Regions from separate parts of the Homo sapiens genome. Here region 2 is linked to region 1. Evidence: fine-mapped expression QTL. Tissue or cell type: whole blood. Region 1 holds a variant in brackets; the other region holds the start of a gene. All regions are shown on one strand. Distances are between the middles of the regions. Region 1 overlaps RNF144A (ring finger protein 144A). Region 2 holds the start of RNF144A (ring finger protein 144A).

The links.
Region 2: RNF144A starts here. The variant in region 1 is fine-mapped to the expression of RNF144A in whole blood (TOPMed, PIP above 0.99).

What each region holds. Positions count from the first base shown.
Region 1 is chr2:7,035,775-7,046,480 of GRCh38, forward strand. RNF144A (ring finger protein 144A) reads left to right here. Exons shown (of 9, transcript NM_014746.6): 9 at 3,855-8,405. The coding sequence ends at 3,986. Among named protein-coding and RNA genes, the nearest start is that of GRASLND, 120 kb to the left of the region's middle. RefSeq lists an enhancer at 1,984-2,278 and a silencer at 8,304-8,598. The variant G/A (reference allele first, on the strand shown) is at 5,655.
Region 2 is chr2:6,912,143-6,922,848 of GRCh38, forward strand. RNF144A (ring finger protein 144A) reads left to right here and starts at 5,270. Exons shown (of 9, transcript NM_014746.6): 1 at 5,270-5,480. It overlaps GRASLND (glycosaminoglycan regulatory associated long non-coding RNA), which reads right to left and starts at 6,540. Exons shown (of 5, transcript NR_033997.1): 1 at 6,260-6,540; 2 at 4,708-5,082; 3 at 3,681-3,825; 4 at 2,051-2,208; 5 at 134-1,522. RefSeq lists a silencer at 5,110-5,599.

The DNA.
Region 1 (10,706 bases):
CAGGCTGCTTTCATTATTTTTTACGGGAGCAGAGGTTTTATATGCCACTTGCATCTTACCTGGCACTCTTGTCAAACGGAAAACAGTGCTGTAAAGGAAGAATTGTCTTTGTTGCATAAAGTTATTGTACAGTTTGTTTCATCGCAAGTGATACATTTTTTATTCAGTATAGCAGAGTCTCCTGTTAAAGTAAATGAGCATGAAAACCAGCAGAGTGGCCGCGAATGCAAGACCGCACGGTGGGCAGATGTCTCACGTGGGACTGACTGTGCGGTTGCTGGAGTGAGTGTGGGTGCTGTGAGCCGCACCTGTGCCCTGTCCATCTGCCCTCCTGTGCATTCGCTGTGCACACGATTGCATGAAGTGCTTGCCGGCCTTTTTCCAGCGCTATCCCAGAAATCAGCCATCGTGTGGAGGAGCATTTCATTTTCTCTAGAGTAACCTTACTTCCTTAGGACATCAGCATCTGACAAGGGAGAATCTTACCCAAAACCAGCTCTTCCTTCTCTTCTGAGAAGTGAAAGGAAACTTTCTTTACCCCAGTCCATCTTTGATAAAGAGCTCATTTTTAGCCAAAGGATGGTATTTACGAAAGCCAGCTGATTACTGATCTTCTGTATTCACATGCATCCGTGGAGGGGTGCACAGTGATAGTTTCAGAGACTGAGCCGAAGGACCAGGTGTTCCTTCCAGAAATGCTTATGTCCTGGAAGCCACATGCAGTGACTGTTCTAAGGGTATTTCTCACTGAGATCAGTGAAATAGGCACGATCTATCTCTTGTACTTACACCAGGATGCTAAGCTCTGTCTGTTTTAAACAAATATTGGACCTCTGGAATAGCTTTTTGGGTATAGATTTTGCATCTGTGAAATGAGAAAATTAGACTGGATTATAATCCAGGGATCAAATATGATACTGTGATTCTGAACTTGTCTGTGCCACCTTCAGTTACCTAGTTTCAGTGAATTAATAGTGTTCCATTCACCTTACCAGATCTCAGATTTTGGCTTAGTTTTCCAAGCCCTTGAATGTGGTTTGTACAAGAATTCTCTGGGGGCAGCCATTCAGAACCTTGTCAGTTTCAACTGGCTCGTCCCATAAACCTGGGTCGGACATTGATTATGAGAGGTGCCGGGCTGTGCATGGGAACTTAGAATGGTTTGCAGAAAGAGTGTTCTGGCTTTAAGTAGCACACATCTAAGAAACTTCATGGGAAGGGGTAACTGTTCCTTTAAATCTTAGGGTTTGCCAGTACGAACGAAGCTGTGCTGTACAGATTCTCTCTGGAGCCTGAAACTGTTTACCCATCCCTCTGCCTTCTGTGATCAAGTATCTGACACACATCCACAGCACACACACACAGTGGTTCTTTTTGCTTTGTGATATTTGCTTCCTGTCTCATTTTTTACTGCTGGCTGCGTAACTGGCAGTACCTGCATCTGCCTGTCACCAATTGGCAATACGTTGGGTAACCCGGCTTCTCAAACAGCAGGCAAATTTAGAGACGAGGTAGACTGAGTGAAAAGCGAAGATGGTGTGTGATTGGCTAAGAATGTGATCATTTGGTCCAGGATTTTGGCATTATTTTGACTGCAAAGAATGTGTGGCTCTTTCAAGACTGACAGTTGTGTGCCAGGTAGTCGAGGTTGCTCAAAATTTCCCTTCAAATAGGGTAGAGCTTACTGCATGTTTTATGCCTTCTGCATATCAGCGTGCACGTGATTTCAGTAAAGCACAACCTGAATTCACACTGGGTAGTTCCACCGTTGATATGTTGTTCAGACAAATGAACGTAGCCAGCTGGGCAGCAGGCATGGATTCCCAGCATTAGCACAATCCAATGTATAAATGCAATGTGGCATAATTTATTAAATGCAATCTAATTTATACACGTATGCACGTACGTGTGCATGTGTTGGTGTTGATTTTCAGGAGAAATCTCAGTCGAGGTATACTTTGTTCCACACATCTGGGATGCTTTAGTAGAGTCTCATATTTTAGGGCTGATAATGGCCCGTAAAGATCTTTTACTTCATTTGTTTATTTTATAGATGAGAAAACAGACCCAGGGAGAAGTGAAGGCTGAGTTGGAATGAGAACCATGTGCTGGTGCTTGCATTTACTGGCCACACTGAACACTAGGTGGCGGTCTAGCCCTGTCCTCGCTCTCATTTCTGCAGGCTGCCTGCCTGGGTTGGGACTCTGTGAATGGCGAGGCCGGCTGGAAAGCAGGCTCTGTGCCTCTTTGACCAGCCATGCCGCCTGACTCAGATGATGGCATGTCTGCATTTGAGGCTTATTTCTTTTGGCCTTTACTCATAACTAGGGATAAACATGTTTTCAAGCAAAAATCAAAATACGTAACAGTCAGTATTGGGCTTTAGACTCCAGGAAGGACAGGGGGCCAGGTCATTCTCTGATGCACCATGCCTGTGTCTTTTCTGTTTTCTCGTCGGAAATGCACTATTCCAGTCTTTCTTCTGTAGTAACAACCTGCTTGTCTCCATTATCTCAGCCACCTGCCATTGGAAACCCTCCTTTCCCCTAGCAAATGGTGTCTGTCACTCACATGGCGGGGGTGTGTGGGGCTGCACCCCTGGAACCTGATGGCAGTTTCTGTAGAATGTCTTGTTATCAGTTGATTAGATCTTGGTCTTTTTCTGCCAGACAGGGTGTTCCTCGAGGGCCAAGATGTATGCACCTCTGTATTTGCAGTGTCAAGTGCAGTGTCTGGGTCAGGGTGGCTGCTGAGAGGAAACTTGTTAGTTAATAGGATATATAGATGTATGGATGTTTGGGTGTTTAGATGGAAAAGGGTGGAGAGAGAGAAGGAAGGGAAAGGAAGAGGTGGAAAAGAAGAATGAGGGAAAAATGAAGGGAAGAATGTATAGTCGGTGGATGGATATATAGTGGGCAGATGAGTGGGTGGGTGGGTAGATGGTGGGTATATGAATGGAAGGGTATAGACTGGTGAATTGATGGGCAGATGGATGATGGTTAGATGGATAGATGGGTGGATGGGTGGATGGATGGGTAGATGGGTGGATAGGTGGATGAATAAAGAGATGGGTGGGTGAGTGGGTGAATGGGTGGATGGATGCATGGATGATGGATGGATGGATAGATGGATGAGAGTGGATGGATAGATGGATGATGGTTAGATGGATAGATGCGTGGGTGATGGCTAGGTATTGATGGGTGGGTGGATGGTTGGATGGATGGGTAAATGGATGGGTGGATGAGTAGATAGATGGATGGGTAGGTGGATGGATGGAGAGAGAGATGTATGATGGTTAATGGATGAATGGGTAGATGATGGTTAGATGGGTAGATGGATGGATGGATAGATGGATGGGTAGGTGGATGGATGGATAGAGAGATGGATGATGGTTAATGGATGAATGGGTAGATGATGACTAGATGGGTAGATGGATGGATGGATAGATGGATGGGTAGGTGGATGGATGGAGAGATGGATGATGGTTAATGGATGAATGGGTAGATGATGGTTAGATGGGTAGATGGATGGATGGATAGATGGATGGGTAGGTGGATGGATGGATAGAGAGATGTATGATGGTTAATGGATGAATGGGTAGATGATGGTTAGATGGGTAGATGGATGGATGGATAGATGGATGGGTAGGTGGATGGATGGATAGAGAGATATATGATGGTTAATGGATGAATGAGTAGATGATGACTAGATGGGTAGATGGATGGATGGATAGATGGATGGTTGGGTGGATGGATGGATGGATGGATGGGTAGCTGGTTGTGTGGTTTACACTTTAGCTCTGGAACCTACAGACCAGCCCTCCTTACCTCTACCCCTTTGTTTCTTTCTTCCAGGTTGTGGGCATTTTTGCAGGATTTGGGCTGCTGCTCTTGGTGGCCTCACCTTTCCTACTCCTGGCCACTCCCTTTGTACTTTGCTGCAAGTGCAAGTGCAGTAAAGGTGACGACGACCCGTTACCCACCTAGAGGAAGCGCGATGCTGGAACACATCCCTGCCTCCGGGAAGTGTGGCTCTCCCCCAACCCTCCCCACCGTCCCCCCTTCACTAAACATCTTTCTTGCCTTATGTGCCCCATTGAGCTTCACAGTGTCAGGCTGGACGCCGTGATTTCAGGGACCTATGTCACAATGTTCGCTGAGGCCCCAGGTGTGGTGGGGAGGGGAGGCAGGTGTGGGTAGCGCACATCCCCACAGATCAATCTCTGCAGATGACAGGGAGGTGCTGTGAGAAGTGCACCAGGCAGCTTTCTCTCTGTGGTAGACTAGGCATGTCTGGGGATGGCCTAAGAGACTTTCTGCTCCTTGGCTTCTAGATGGCACCATGTTGTCAGAGAAGTCTTTTAAGGACTGCCACTCTCTTCAGACAGAATCTGATTATTCCAGCTTGAGAGAAGCACTCTGTTTATGACAACTGTTTTTATTACTAATGGCATTTAGTAAAATCCTTTTTAGAAGGTATTTTTTTTCCAACTGAGTAGTGAAAATCAACAAGGTGCATATAAACCATCCTATGCCTTTCTTGAAATGTGCATTTTAAGAAGTTATAGTTAAACGACTTTTCAGGAGATTTAGAAAGCCTTATGCACTCTTTGTGTTTTTCTTGAAACTTGCTGTAGTAACTTTTTGAACGCTGTAAGCTGTGTACTGTTATAAGTGTGCTTCCTATATTGTTGCATTTCCTTGATAATATTGACGTGTTTAAAGGAACATCTCATCTCCATTAGATTTGCCTTTTGTTGTTTTCTCTCTTTGGTGATTCAGCTCAGCTCATGGGCCTCATCCCTTCTCTCCCAGGTAGCAGAAAACGCTTTTTATTGTATTCAATCCCACTGCTTTGCTCGGCAATGGTTCTCCTCCGAATTGCTGCCGTCTGGCCTCTGGCCTCAGTCTTCAGATAGACAGTAAGAAGAAAGCAGCCTCATTGATCCGCAGATGTAGGGGCCTCTTGGCAGAGGCTGGAGGACTCTGGGGGCTAGGGAAGAGCCTGCCAGATTTTCACATTTTTAAAATGTTCTAGTCATTTTGAGAAATCATATATCTTACACAGTTCCAAGTCCTGTTGCTAACCGTTTTGCTCTTGTTGGGGAAAAGAACCTCCCATTTCACTTCGTTTTAACGTGGGGATTTTACCACTTGATCTTTTACAGGGCTGTCTGTGACCATTTCCATGGCAGCAGGATGCAGGGATTAATAAGGACACATACACATTATTCCACCAATTGACTTTGAAAAGTGGAGAAAGTGTATTCTTTAAAGAGAATTTACTTCTAAAAGCCACAGGTGCTTTTACAAAGCAAACTGCATTGAATTTAAAACTTCTAAAAATAACAGGCAAATATTGTAGCTATATTACAGTGGGATTTTAAAAATCTTGTTAAACATTCTATAAAGAAGTAAAACAAAATCCTTTTATCTCAGTTATTTGCCCATCACAAGCACATTTTTAAAATGTTGCTTTGTGTGTGTTTGACTTCTGCATTTGAGTATCAGTCTCAGGTCCTAGTTTACTTTCCCTGGTTGGAAATTTATTTCTTATTTCCTAACATTGAATTCGTTAGAAAAAACAGCGTCACCTCACTCTTCACCTGTCATGTTGATTTTCCTTATGAACCCGAAGCCATTTAGAAAATCCCT[G/A]TGTGTCAAAATTACATTCAAAAAGCTCTCCTTGTAATTGCAAGTTTAGTAACTCAGTAAGAACATGCCTGCGACTCCCTTTCTGGATGGAACCTGGGCTGTGGCTCTCTGTCGTTTGTGGTGCTGTGATGGTGTCTACTGTTAGAATAGCTTTTCTGGAGGTGGGTGGCAACTCCACGCGGGAGTCATTGGCTGGGCTTGAGCCCTCAGCCTGTGATATGTGGATGCAGCTGTCCAGCCACTGCCCTTTAACATGCCCAGCACACATGGGAGGCCTGTGGCCCTGTGTCCAGTGGCCCACAGGACACGCCTCCACCATATGCTCATCCTTCCTGCCTGAAATTGCTGCTGCCCATCGCATGAGCCCACACAGTAGCACCCCCGTCCTTAGGATGAGAGTCAGAGCCTTTGGAAAGGCTGCATCCCCAGGGCTAGAGCTCAGATGACCTTATTTCTAGAGGGACAGGCTGTTCTGTTGGAAGAGTCTCTGGCCCAGTCATGCACATCTGTAGCCCCAGCCATCCTTGTGCCTTCACCTCTGATGTGTTTCACAAGCACGTAGTTCAACCCAGATAGGGACCACAGAGATTCTGGGGCCAGCCAGGGGCAGTCAAATTGGCACCTACTGGCTCTGACTTTTTGTATGAAGCATGCCTCAGTTTCCTCATTTTGATCTAGATATAAAATTAAAATTGTCCATTTCCTATATAAATACCAGCAAGATCACTCTGAGATACATAAACTCGCATTTCCTTCTGTTTTAGTAAGGAGTGCCAGACTTATCTTTGATGGGAATACAGTATGAACCCTGCTTGATGTAAAATGGAAATAGCACACAGGCAGATGGCCCTGGGTTTGGACTTTGATCTTGCCATCATTCCCCAGTAAAACCTGGGGAGTTCTGCGTTGAGTGGACGGACTTATTCCTGTGAAGCGGCATAATTTGTCTCCATTGAAAAATGGCATTCACTCTTACAGATGGTGTTCACTGCAAGCCCCAGAAGCATATGGCATGTGTTCACTAAGAGGCCTTTAATCCTGGGGAGTAAGGGGCGAAGGCCCTTAGACAACCATGGCTGCTGTACTGCCGCCCAGGGTGGGTGGCCAGTGAGGACTGGCCTTAGCCCAGTGGACCTGTGGCTTCTCTGAGGCCCTTGAGTAACTGACCACATTTGGAGGTTTTGCTGGAAATGCCTGACCTCTCAGTCTGGCTCTGCTGTGTAGTCCATAGCCCAGCCAGATGAGCTTGCAGCCTCATAGGAGGTCAGCACCTTGCAAAGATGCAGTCACCATAGATGTCCACGTAGCAGAGACTGACTTAGGATCTGAGATAAAGCATCGGATTGCAGGAATAACTGTCCAAATTAGTTCTTCCTCCTCAACTCATAGGAGTAGCTGTGGACAGAGGAACCAACATCTGCCACCTCTGGCATTTTCTTTCTTTTTTTTTCTTTTTGAGACGGAGTTTCGCTTTTGTCCCCCAAGCTGGAGTACAATGACAGGATCTCGGCTCACTGCAAGCTCTGCCTCCCGGGTTCAAGCGATTCTCCTGCCTCAGCCTCCCAAGTAGCTGGGATTACAGGCACCCACCACCTCACCCAGCTAATTTTTGTATTTTCAGTAGAGACGGGGTTTCACCATGTTGGCCAGGCTACTCTCAAACTCCTGACCTCAGGTGATCTGCCCACCTCGGCTTCCCAAAGTGCTGGAATTACAGGCCTGAGCCACCCCACCCGGCCTATTTTCTTAAAGGGGAACAAATGATCTTGACAACATATTATTCCATAAAACCAGTTTAGGGCACAGGCCAGTTCCTGATTAGAACACAGGACCTGTGGGAGGGACTATCAGAGATGCAAAAATTACTTCAAGATGAGTTTATTGTTTTCATTTGTATTGCAAAAGTTAGAAGTCATTTTACAAATTAAAAAAACATTTTTTTCTTGGTAGTCTTTAAAAATTAGGGGATTGAAAGGATCCAGGATGGGCTTTGTGTGTGTGTCTCAGATTCTCATTTATTAGTGAGCACACCTGTGTATATATATAAATCACAAGGAGATCATCAAGGGAAAACATTTTGCATGTGTAAAGCTTCATGAAGTTCTCTTTAAAAAATACCAAAGCTTGTTTATTTCTGATAATTAACCTAAGCCCTTATGAAAATAAACAAAATGAAGGGATTATGACAGGTATTACCAAAAACACCAAAAGGAACAAAGGGGCCTGCGTTAAAACCTAATTGCTAATGCTTCACAACTAGGAGAGCATGCCGTCTTGATGTTTAAAAAACCCAGGGTCTCCACCCTTCCTTTGATTTGTGCAATTCTGTCTTCCACAGTTCCGGAGCCTTCAGTGAGGGGTAGCTACATGCCCCATGCCTGCCCTTTCTTTCCTTCTTTGCTCACTTTACTATGGGTGTATTTTAATCTTGTATAAAAATATGCATGAATGAGTCATGCACATGTATACGTTATGTATTTGACAAGTGGTGGTGAAACAAAATCAAAACAGATTTGATTTGTGTTTTTGAAATGTCAGTACATTTTGTGCCACTAACACTGTGATGTATAAAAGAGCTGTTTGAATGCCTTTTAATGTTGTGTTTTGTACTCTGGAATCATATGGAAAAAGTTTGATTTGTAATTTCAATACATATTTTAAATGTATTGTGTCTTACGTAGTTTGTCCCCCCCTTTAGCAGGGATTCCTTTTTAAAGCTATTTTGGCTGGAATACAGGTGACTTTTGTAAACCCCGCGTGGCTCCGTCTTTTGTAGATGCTTATCTGACTACTGGCCTGAAGATGGAAAATATTCTATCTTCAGTCTTCAATATTTAATCTATTGAAGATTGAAAATATTCAATGTGGGAACTGGGGGTGGAGGGAGAAAGGGTGAGGCAGGGGAGGGATCTTATATCACTGGGAAAACAGCTCTTGTATCCTGAGATTTTCTGTTTTAGGAATGTTCTCAACTCCTAGATGCCAAAATTACTTGGTTTGTTGGGTGTATCAACCCGTCCAGCCATTCCTGGCTCCCTCTTGTGGTGCCCAACCGGTACTGCAGCATCAGGAAGCATCTCATCCCCACTCAGGGCGCTCTGCTTCCATCCGCAAAGACAAGTTCCTTACAGACCTGTCACATTTTATGAGTTGCAGCATGAAAATCAGGAGGCATCCTTTATCTGCTGGGGGTGGGGAGAAAGTGGAATAAATATGGATCCTTCTCATTTCGTAGGAGAGATAATAATGAGCTGAAGATGTGGTGGTTCACCTTGATTTTCATTCACCTCACTCCAGCTTGGAGGAGAATCTATACCTCATGCGTTCATATGATGCTCAAGTCTGGAATAGGCAACTGGTTCCTTGTCCTGTGTTTAAGTTTTAAATCCATTCTTTATATCTACAGGTGCACATTAAGGGAGTGGATTTTGTTAACTGGTGATTCATAGTGGGCACTGAAGACTCAATATATCTGCCCTCAAGGAGCTCTTAGTCTCAAGGGGTTGACAGATAAGTCAGTCAATTATCATAAGAAGGTGGAATAAGTTCAATGGTAGACGCACGCTCAGCAGGCTTTGCGGGCACAGCACAGCCCTTCGGCCAGGCCGGAAGGTCAGGGAAGGCTGTCCAGAGGACGCCATGTATGAGCTCGCTCTTGTAGACAAGTAGGAACTAGCCAAGCAAAACTGAGAAGTGTGTTCAAAGGAAGGGCCCAGTTCAACAAGCGCACAGAGTTTGGTCCAACTGGCGTGTCGGGGTTGGAGAGTTACTCAAATGTCTGACCTGGTGGGGGCACAGTGTGCCGAACTCAGGAACTGGACCTTCATGATAAAGGCTGTGTGGGAGGAGTGAGTTAGGGTCCTAGGGCTGCTGTCACAAAGGACCACACACCAGGGGCTACAACAACAGAGCTTTACTGTCTTCCAGGTCTGGAGGTTGGAAACTGAAGGTTCAGGTATCTGCAGGGCTGGAATCTTCTGAGAGCGGTAAGGAGGATGCCCGTGTTGCTCTGCAACTTCCTGGTACTGCTGGCAGTCCTGGGTGTTCCTTGGCTGGTAGATGCACCCCCAGTCTCTGCCTGCAGGTTCCCACGGCGTTCTCCCTGTGTGCACGCCTGTGGACACAGCTCCTTCATCTAAGGGCAAAGTCATATTGGATTAGAGCCTACCCTGATGACCTCATCTTCACTCGATCATCTGCAAAGACCCTATTTACAAATAAGGTCAAGTTCACAGGTTCTGGGGGTTAGGCTTCAACACTTTTTGTGGGAAACACAACTCACCTCCATAGGAGGGAGCACGGACTCTGAGTGGGCTGTCTGGCCCCAGGGAGGTCAACCAGAGAAGGTGGACGGGTACAGCAGGTGGCGGGGCTCCGTTGCCGGTGGTGCTGCCTCAGGTGCAGTCCAGAAGCAGTTCTTCCCTACGCTGGGTTGCACATCAATTCTTGAAGCGGGCCTGGAATGTAGGAATTGCCCCCCAGAAAACACTGCCAAAAAACAATGATGGTTAAGCAAAATAAATCCATATTTCTGTGTCTACCTAGGTACATATATTTGTTTCTAAAAATTGAAAAAGAAATTTGCCAGCAAAGAGTCTTATCAACTCTTAGAGGAACCCAAATTACAGGGCATAGAAGGTGGGAATGGCACAGACTTTGATAGCATGTGCTTATCTAGAAGGTATTCTAAACTTGACTTGTTTGCAGGAGGTACATGAGAGATTATAACTGCTGATGTGGCTCGACCACAAGACAGTGTCCATTACTCAGCTCAGCTCAGCTCATCTCTGTCTATACCAGTGAGCAACTCAGCCATTTAAAAACAGCAATTGCTGCCCACGACCTGGTGTTGGCTACTCGCTCTTCTCTAGCTAAAGTCACCCAGGATGTGCATTTTCGGATGAAGCCAACATCGAATGGGGCCCAGAGCAGCAGGGTGGAGAGCTGCAGTGGCTGCTATAGCCAGGGAAGGCTGGAGCCACATCGCAGGAGGGTGACTTCCCGTGCATGTGACAGCCTGGGAGCACCTGTTTCCTGTTTGAACATTGGGAT
Region 2 (10,706 bases), 120 kb before region 1:
CCCATAAGTGAAGTGAAAAGATCAGACAAAACTTTCTCTTGGGTCCTTTTCAGTTCTAAGTAGAATCTACGGAGCTTGCATTTGAGCCATGCATAGAAGATCCGGTTAATAAAGAACCACAGAAGATTCATTTCTTTCATTCAACAAATTTTTATGAAGTGCCTAGAACTTATCTTGCCATTGCTGGATATGATGGCAAACAAGAGAGACGCGTCTCTACTTTCTGGGAGAATGCTAGGAAAAATATCTTTACTTTTTAATTCACATGTTAATATTTTCATTTATTGTCATTTATCTTGCCACCTTTGTATAACACTTTTATTTTTATTATAACCCTTGTTCTCTAAGTTGCAGTCATGAGTAGTCACCTTCCATGCACTTGTATTAGTTTGCTAGGCCTGGTGAAACAAAGTACCACCTTCTGAGTGGCTTAAACCACAGAAATGTATCATCTCACAGTTCTGGAGGTGTATTAGGGTTCCTCAGAGACACAGAATCAATAGGATAGAGATAGATAGATAGATAGACTAGATAGATGATTGATAGATGGATAGATAGATAGATAGATAGGAGATTTATTATGGGAATTGGCTTACATAATTATGGAGGCCAAGAAGTCCCACGATCTGCCGTCTGCAAGCTGGAGACCCTGAAAAGCTGGTGGTGGAATTCAGTCAGAGGCCAAAGGGCGGAGAACCTAGGGGTGGAGTAGGGAGGGGGAAGCACGCTCTCATGTAAGTGCTGGAATCCTGAGGCCCGAGAACCAGGAGCTCTGAAGTCAGGGGGCAGGAGAAGATGGATGTGCCAGCTGGAACAGAAGGAGCATATGTGCCCTTCCTCCTGTTTGTTCGCGCTCTCCAGAGATAGGGTGATGCACGTGGGTGAGGGCAGATCTTCTTTACTCTAAGGATTCAAATGCTGATCTTGTCCAGAAACACTCTGAGAGATGCACACAGACATACTGTCTTACCAGCTATCTGGGCATCCCTTAACCCAGTCAAGCTGCCACTTAACATTAACCATCACAGGGGGCTAGAAGTCTAAGTCAAAGCTTTGGCAAGATTGGTTCCTTTTGAGGGCTGTGAGGAAGAATCTGGTCCAGGCTCCTCCACCAGCTGCCGGTGCTTTGCTGGTCATCTTTGGCATTTCTTGGCTTGTAGAAGCATCACCCAAATCTTTGACTTCAGTTCACATGGTGTTCTCCTTGTGTGTGTCTGTGTCCAAATTTCCCCTTTACATAAGGACACCAGTCATATTGGATTAAAGCCCACTCCAGTATGATCTCCTCTTAACTAATCATATCTGCAATGACCCTATTTCCAAAGAAGGTCACATTCTGGGGTACTGGGGCTTAGAACTTCAGTATACGAATTTTAAGGAGGCACAAGGTGTCCGTGACAGTGCTGTGTTAAGTGACTGGAAGGATGAATTTCCTTTTTCACTTGCACTTTCTTTCTTGAAGTTTTGTTTGAAGCTGCTTGAAGACATCTCTGCATCCTGTCTTATGTGGATGCTACTCCCACTGCAGAGATTATTCGAGAGGTTGGAAAGGTTGGAAAAGAAAGAGAGGATGCTTTTGAAGGGAGAAGGGTAAGAGTACAGACAAGGGAAGCTGTATTAGTCTGTCTGTTCCCACACTGCCAATAGAGACATGCCTGAGACTAGGTAATTTATAAAGAAAAAGAGGTTTAATGGACTCACAGTTCCACATAACTGGGGAGGCCTCACAATCACGGCGGAAGGCAAGGAGGAGCAAAGTCACAGCAGGCAAGAACATTTGCAGGGGAACTCCCCTTTATAAAACCATCAGATCTCATAAAACTTATTCACTGTCACGAGAACGGCACAGGAAAGACCCACCCCCATGATTCAGTTACCTCTCACCTGATCCCTCCCATGACATACGAGAATTATGGGAGCTACAATTCAAGATGAGATTCAGGTGGAGAGACAGCCAGACTGTATCAGAAGCTTTGCCAAGAAGACCCGGAGAGTAGCAGGAACTCTCCTCTGTTCTTTGGCATTACCCTGTGAAGGCTGTGTGGCTCACCTGGGGACTGTGCCTCTGGCAGGAAAGTCTTGTGCTGTCTGCTCCTGAGAGAAGGCATGGCTTCTGGAATGAGATGATCAGTAGCACAGATGGGCTGAAGATGAGACGTTACATTCCACATTCCCAGAACCATAATATCCCCCAGATTCCTCTGTGTCCTTAAGGAGAGAAAGTCAGAATGAGAACTGACATTTGATTTCCTGCTACTCTAGAGAAACAAGAAATGGAATTTGTTAATTTTTAAAATAAAAAAAGTGAATTTTCTATATTTATGGAATGTGTGATTACAAATTCACATAAACTTCCTTGTCTAATTTTTTTTCTTTTCTTTTTCTTTTTCTTTCTTTTTTTTTTTTTTTGAGACTGAGTTTCGCTCTTGTTGCCAGGCTGCAGTGCAGTGGTGCGATCTCGGCTCACCGCAACCTCTGCCTCTGGGGTTCAAGCGATTCTCCTGCCTTAGCCTCCCGAGTAGCTGGGATTATAGGCATGTGCCACCACGCCTGGCTAATTTTGTATTTTTAACAGAGACAGGGGTTTCTCCATGTTGGTCAGGCTGGTCTTGAACTCCCAACCTCAGGTGATCTGCCTGCCTCGGCCTCCCAAAGTGCTGGGATTACAGGCATGAGCCACCACACCCAGCCCCTTGTCTAATTTTTTAAAAAAAATTCAAGTGTGGGTCTTGAGCTTCCCTTGATTTTCTGTCTAGAAGAGAAGTGTCAGAACGGCTATCTGCTTTCCCAGCTTCTGGGCCATTTGCTGCAGCACTGAGTCGCCAGCCTGCTTCGCATGAGCAGGGAAATTTTGCCCATCTAGGTAATCAGGAAGAGCTTGTTCAATGAGTGAAGGGTGAGTCATACTGCATTGGCACAAACTCTTGGCAACAATGAGTGTCCTTTACAATGGGCTCTATGGGACAGCCCTCTGGGGGAGATGGGCCAGCCAGACCTGAGTAAGGGGCTGGACTGAAAACTGACAGTGACAGGTGGAAGTGAACTTGAGAGACCCAACAAACTTCTTGTTGGAGAGAACTAGGACAGCTGCTCAGAGGCAAAGCTCAGAGTAGAGGATTTCACTCAGTATTTATTGAGCACTTATTATGTTCAAGGCCCTAAGAGGGAATATGTAGAAAAATGCTGTTCTCTAGAATCGTAAGATCTAAGCATCAGAAAGTGAATGCCACAAACATTAAGTGTGGCAGATGCCATGATCAACACAGACAAAGACTAAGTATTACACCAGCTCAGAGATCAGAGATCTAGGGATGGGGAACTCCATGATAGGCCGGGAAGTCTTTGCAGGGAAATCTGCATCTGAGTGCCTTTTGAGGCCTGCTGCAAACAAAACTTTCAATGCCAGTGTCCCCTCTCACTATCTCCCCAACAATGGTTGCATTCACAAAGACAGAGCAGGGGAATGAAGTCACATGTATTACCACATGAGCAATTACAAGTCTCAGTTGGGTCAGGGCATTTTTGCACCTTAACTCTCTTCCTGCAGCCCCAGATGCTCCTTTGCAGTCCCCCAGCTTGAGTGTTATACGTCTGTGTTCCATGAGAATGCCTGCATCTTAATACAGACCCCTTTATTGTGGGGAACACAGCACAACGTCTGTGCATTTGCAGTCACCCACCTGTGCATCCCCTGAATCCTTCATTCATAAGTAGTACTCAACCAGGAACTTCTTTGGTATCCCAGCTCGGACACGGGAGGTGTGAATATATTTTTCATAAAGCCCAGGCCTTTATGCAGAACGATTTTCATCCTCTAGTGAGAGGCTGAAGTAACAAAGTGCTGTTGTTAAGATTCTTCCCATTGTGCATTTTTCTTGAATAATGACATTTCTAAAAAGAATCTGAAACTGAGGCATTAGAAGGCAAGTGCTCGTTCATATATTTGAAGAGGTCAAATATTTACCAGAATAACTTCTCAATACAGAGGGGACAGCTTTATTTTATTTTACTATAAAGATGTATGTGTAGCAGAAGACAAATTATGCAGAGCTTTGAGTTAGTTAAGAATCATCTGATTTAATTCTTTGGAGAAATGAGACAAATTGTAGCTAAGGACTATGGAGTTGTTTTAGTTTGCCAGTTATATTTAATTTGACTATTTCTTTATTTATTGAGAGACAAAGTCTCACTCTGCTGCCCAGGCTGGAGTGCAGTGATGCAAACACAGCTCACTTCAGCCTTGACCTCCTGGGCTCAAGCAGTCCTCCTGCCTTGGCCTCCCAAAGTGCTGGGCTTACAGGTGTAAGCCATGGCACTTGGCCTATTTGACTTGTTTAATCCCTCCGAAGAACTCATACATACTATTGCCACCTCATTTTCCACGTAAGAAAATGGAAGCACGAAGACCTTAATAACTTGCTTAATGGCTAGTAGGTGGTAGAGCTTGAATTTAGACCACACAGTGTGGAGGGTATGCTATTAAGGAAAAACGATGTTCTAGTGGGGTTTCCATTTAATATTGCAGAAAAAAGAATCTATATATTTAAGAAGGTGTTATTTCATGCACACTCGTAGGTTTTGTTCATATATGCACATCTGACGTATAATTTAACATTTGTGTAACTTCAAGCTTCTATGGGGAGTGGCAGAAGATGCAGGAATTCTATTAATACCTTCGCAGATCTTAGATTCCAACAAGCTGGATACCTTAAGAAAAATAAAGAAATTGCTGTGCTTGGATCCCAGATGTCCATTCCACCTTTTGGGACCTCCCGGGGGGCCCTCTTTTCTTCATCCTTCAAGACAAGGATAGTGGGGTGAACAGACAGACTTTCCTTGCGAGGGTTGGCTCAGGAAGGCTCTGGGCTCATCTCACAGCCGCCCCAGCGAGGGTCGGGGAGGCAGGTGCTGGCTCCGGTGGGGTCTGCGGCAGAGCAGGACTGGAGCCCAGGGCGCAGCTGCACAGCTCAACGCCGGTTCGCGCCCTGGTTTACAGCGTTGGGCTGGGTCACCCCTTCTTTCCTAGCTTGCTGCTGTGTGTTCCCTCGGTGTAGGAATCAGGGGAGTGTCTTCTGGAGGCCACTAAAGCAGGAATAGCATTTTCATGTTAGCGTGCACGGGCGGTCTCCGCAGCCCCTCCTCGTGCCGGAGCCTGTCCTGGGGCCTGCGGGGCGGCTCCGGGCCTCGGGCCGGCGCAGGCGGGCGGCAGGGGGCGCTGTGCGGCTCGGCGCGGGGGCGGGGCCGGGGCCGAGCCTCCCGCGTGCCCGGCCTCTGTGCGCGCTCGCGCCCCGCCCGCGCAGCCGCTTCTCCCCGCGCGGGCTCTCGGCAGGCGGGAGGCGGCAGGGCTGGCATTGCAGTGCGGGCCGTGCGGGCTGCGCGGGCGCGGGGAGGCGCGGGCGGCAAACTGCGGGCACCCGGCACCCCGCAGCCAGTACCGGGCGGAGGCGTCAGAGCCGCGCACCGCGGACGAGCAGGCCCAGGTAGAGTGACGCGCGTCCCCTTTGTGTCCGCATCGCCCGGGCCGGCCGCGGAGCGGGGAGGGCGGGACGCGGCGCTGCGCGGCCGGCCTTGGGGCTCGGGGCTTGCGGCCGCGCCTGCCCCGCTGGGTCCTGCCCCGGCGCCCGGTGGCAGCGGGCGGGGGGCAGCGTCCCGGGCGGGGACTCGCGGGCTCCGTTCAGAGGACGCCCGCCCTGCCCTGCCCGTGTCCCTGACCTCGTCCCTGCTCTGCTCCTGCCCTGCCCTGCCTCTCGCAGGCGGCGCCCGCGCCCCAGGGCAGTGGGCGCTTAGGGACCTGGCGTCCCCCTGCCTGCCCTGCGCGGTCGCGGGTCTGCGCTGCGGCGCGGGACAGGGCGCCCCGGGCCAGGGTCCCGCGGGCGAGCTGGCGGCGGGGGCTTTCAAGGTTCGCGGCCCCGCCCGCAGACCCTGGGGCTGGAGCCTCGGCCCCAAGAGGAGGTCTGGGAAAGGACGACGCGTCCGGGGCATCGCCACCGGCGGGGAAGGTCGGAACTGGCCAAGAGGATGCCCCGCACATCCCCTGCGCGCGGGGTCCGCGGCTGCTACTGCCCCTGGTCCCCACCGCGAGCCCTTTCCCGGGGAATGAGCCGCCGCCCGAGCCCCGGAGTTCCCTGCGGGTCTTACCCACCCCAGCCTCCGGCCGCCGACCCCAAGCCCCCTGCACTGTGCTTGGCTCCCAGCTGTTTGGTCGCTTATGCCATCCTGGAGGCTTCCTGGTCCTGGGGTGAAGGGGTGACTTCTTTACCCTAATGGTCTTCGTAGGCAGGTCTCAGGATGTCCACTCCAAAGTTCGTGGTCTTTTTTCTAGAGAATAATAATTTTTAAAATCCATTGAACTGGCCGGGCGCGGTGGCTCACGCCTGTAATCCCAGCACTTTGGGAGGCTGAGGCGGGCGGATCACGAGGTCAGGAGATCGAGACCACGGTGAAACCCCCTCTCTACTAAAAATACAAAAAATTAGCCGGGCGCAGTGGCGGGCGCCTGTAGTCCCAGCTACTCGGGAGGCTGAGGCAGGAGAATGGCGTGAACCCGGAAGGCGGAGCTTGCAGTGAGCGGAGATCGCGCCACAGCACTCCCGCCTGGGCGACAGAACGAGACTCCGTCTCAAAAAAAAAAAAAAAAAAAAAAAAAAATCCATTGAACAAACATCCTGCGCTGCCTCCTGCAGGATCAAGGCTGGGGTAACAGAGGAGTGAGGTAAGGCCCCAGGGAACTATCCCCAGTGGATCCCTGCTGCCCTGCGGTGAGAGGGGGTCTAGCTCCTGCACTAAGAGCCTGGGAAGAAAACACTTCCCGTAATGGGGCCTGGGAGATGGAAGGAGGACATGCCCCAGTGAATGGGGCTGGGGTTGAGAGTTGAGCCTGGCAGATAAGATGGATTTGTAAATGAAATGCCAGGTAGAAAGTAAGTTGGTGTAGACGCCTGTGGAGCTGTGGGAGCCCCCAGGAGGGAAGGGAGGGAGTCAGGGTGTCCCTGCAAAGGGAGTCCCCTTTGCAAGGGAGGGGGTGTCTGAGTCAAAGCTTGCAGGTGGGGCAGGTCAGAGGTGGCAGGAAGGGCCTCTGTCCAGAGAGAGCTGCTCCAGCGCAGGAAGGGGGAGGGACAAGGTGTGTGACACCGTGAACTTTCCCAGGGGATTCACCCAGTGGCTCCAAAGGAGACAACAGCCTTTTTTATTGTATTCTCTTCTCCGGTACTGAGATTAGGGAACCTTGTTTTTTGCACTTTTCTAATGCCTTTTACATTTTTGTTTTTATTTTTAAAGCGTGCAAAGGAAATGTGACTAGAGGGGTCAGAAGAGGATAAATCATGAAATCTTTGAATTCTAGGCCAAGACTTTGGGTTTGACTCTGTGTCAGTGGGAGCCATTGATGGTTTTGGAGGAGGAGGGTGATCTGAGCCCTGCTTTAGAGTGATTTCCGCGGTGTTGCGTGGAAGGGAAGGCATGGTGTGGTGTGCCTTACTGTGGCTTCCGAGTCAGACCCCCACTGGCTGTGGGCTTCCACCTGCATCAGGCATCAAAGGCTGTGGATGGATTGAGGACCTCATGAGAAAATGGGTGCAAATAACCCAATTTTAATGGGATGGAAATTTTCCAGACCCAGTGCAATTTGATTTTTGCAGTTTGTGTTTTTAAAGAGCTCCCGATTCTAATGTCAGCAACTCTGGAAGAGGAACTAATGAAGGGCAAACTCAAATGCACGATGCAGGCACCCCCAGGTCATCTGTGCCATGAGGATTTGGGAAACTCAAAGAGCATTGTAAAATGCATATATTTTATAAATAGATTCCAGTGCCCTCAGCTTGCTAGTTGGTAATCCCTGTATCCAGACTGTTGCTAGAGTAAGTCACGTCTCCTGGGGATTCAGTGTGGTTTGGGACTTTGAAGGGACCTCACACTGTTTGGCTGAAGCTGCTGAGGTTCAGGGGTAGAAGTGCCACTCTGGCAGGCGGCGGCAGGGTTGGGAGCTACAAGCTACGTTGCCTGCCTCTGAGAACATTCTTTCCCCTGTGGTCCACCACGTGGCCCCACTGCCTACTTTTGTTCACATTTCTCCCTCCTGGAAGCCTTTCCCTCTGGGGGTAGAGATGGGAAGGAAGCCTGCCCTTGGAGACTGACAATCACAGAACCAGGTGGGCCAGCACCCACCTGGCCTATGAACCCTTGTTGTAACCATGGGAACCTCGTAGCTTGGAAAGGAGGGGTCAGGTAGCCCAGGCCACATGAAAAGCTGTGGCTGGTCCAGCCCTGGCATCAGCTTTTCTGGTTCTGTCTGCTGTCCCTTTTTTCCCATACCTCACTTGCAATAGAAGAGGATGAAGCCGTGCTCGCTGCCCTGCACGTTGGGTGGTCTGGAACCATTCAGGATGATATTGAGCCCTCAGACTCTCTTAGAGCAAGGAACCCCTGGCTTCACAGGATGTGGGATCTCAGAGGCAGCCCAGAGGCGGGGAATGGAATGGAGTGCTTCTAAGGAAGAGGGACTCTCCGTGTTTTCTCTGGGGAATTTTCTAACATTGAGATCGAAGAATGAAGTTGGAGGTGCCTTTCTTTTCTTTAAGAAGTAATCATTTCCAAGACTAGCCTCCTTTCTCCGTTGTTTCTGCATTACTGAAACACATGAATACCCTTTCTTAGTTAGATGAAGAAATTAAATTGAAGCCACTGCTCACATACCTGCTGGGTAGTGGGGCTGAAGGATAGAGCTTATTACAATTTCCTGACCCAGCTGTCTGGCCCTGGGCCAGCGTCTTAACCTCCCTGGATGGCTCCAGTTTTTTGAGGATAAAACTGAGGTGTTGGTGTAAATATTTTCCAAGATCCAGAAATAAAAATGTACTGTTGGATCATATTTTTTTTCCAGGAGAATAAATATTACAGGACGACTCACCAAGTACAACCATTCGTAAGGGTTTGTTTGTTTCCCAAGAGAAAATATTTTAACTTTCAGAAGAGTGGATTTTTTCCAAAGTGAAATGGTGAGAAATGAAGCTTTGAGGAGGGTGGCTCATTGCTGATAGGAGCCTTCACCTTGCTTCACTCCACAAATAACCCAAGACCTGAATTTAAAGGTGCTTACTTCCTGGATGTTCCGTAGAACTGGAAGGCAGGCTTTCTCTAAGGAGCAGGCTTATAAGCTGGATGCAGTGTTCCAGACAAAAGCAAGCTCCTTGGTGGCATGCAGTGTGTCAACCAGTATTTTATCATCTCAGGTGTGTTTGGCACTAGAGGTGGAGGAGGTGGTTGATACTCATTATGGATTTGCCTGATCTTCAGGGCTTTGCTTGCATCGTGGATGCAGTTCTCACACAGCCCTGCAGCACAGGCGTATGTTGCTATCCCTAGCTGACAGAGGAGCAGAGTGAAGCAGAGAGCAGGGATGTTGTCCAACATCGCACACACGTCGTCAATTTTGAAGCCTGGCTTTGAACCCAGAGGCCTGCAGATAAGGATAGATCCCATGACCTTGAGGAGGCTGTAGTCTAGGGAGCGGGAAGCTCAAACATTAACAGATTGAACCGTGGGGTCAGGGCAGCATGGGAGGTCAGGGCAGAGAGCAGTGGGACCCACAGGAGGGTGCCTGGATCAGCCCCGGGTGGCAGGGAGGCTGCCTGCTGGGGCGATGCTGTTGGTCTGGGATGGGAGGGACGGGTCAGAGTTAGCTAGGCAAATTAAGAGGGACAAGGTCACATTCTGGGCCTGGGAACAGCAAGAAACAGCCTGGGGTGGACAGGGAACTTAGGACCAGCACACAGGGCCGAGCTCCCCAGCTGCCTTACCATTGGCCTTTTTAGGGTGGCTGGTGGTCTCTGAGCTGTTTGGACCCAGATTTCCGTGTGTAATACAGCCGCTTTCATTACTGGCATCTCCTGGAAGGTCCCATCAGTGCATTTTCCTTTTCACTGTTTTGTTTTGGAGCGTCTTTCCCTATCTGTGTTCCCTCCATTTCCTTTCCTCCTCCTCCAGTTCTACCTGGTGGGAGAGTGAGTTCAGGGAAAGATCAGGGGAACCACCCATAGCGACCATTGTTTTTACAGTCAGTCACCTTGCTCCCATGTCTTCCGAGTGACCCATAGTTGACTGGGGCCAGCGAACTAGACATTAGCCCCGTGCATGTGCTGGATATGGCCGTGCAGGCTCTGGGGGCTTCTGCCTATGGGAGCCTGTGGGAGCAAAAGGGAAGGGTTCCAAGTCCTGAAAGTGGATGTTGTCAGAGTCTCTTTATTGATTGAACGGGCTTTTGTGTCTGTCCAAGGACTGTGCACATCTCTTACAACATTGTGTTCCTGGGAATACTTTTTAGGTTTCCCAAGAACTGCTTTCAGGTAATTCTGTGGAGCAGGGCATGTTTATTGTTGATGCATGGTGTGTTAAGGTCCTCTGGAGGGCAGAGGAGTGCAGAATGCAGCAAGCTTGACTGCCTCCTGCGAGCCATGCAGAGGGGACCCGCCCGGTTTTTCTTGTTTTTCTTTTTTTTTTTTTTTTGAGATGGAGTCTCACTTTGTCGCCCAGGCTGGAGTGTAGTGGTGCAATCTCAGCTCACTGCAAGCTCCGCCTCCTGGGTTCACGCCATTCTCCTGCCTCAGCCTCCCGAGTAGCTGGGACTACAGGCGCCCGCCGCCACACCCTGATAATTGTTTGTATTTTTAGTAGAGACGGGGTTTCACTGTGTTAGCCAGGATGGTGTTGAT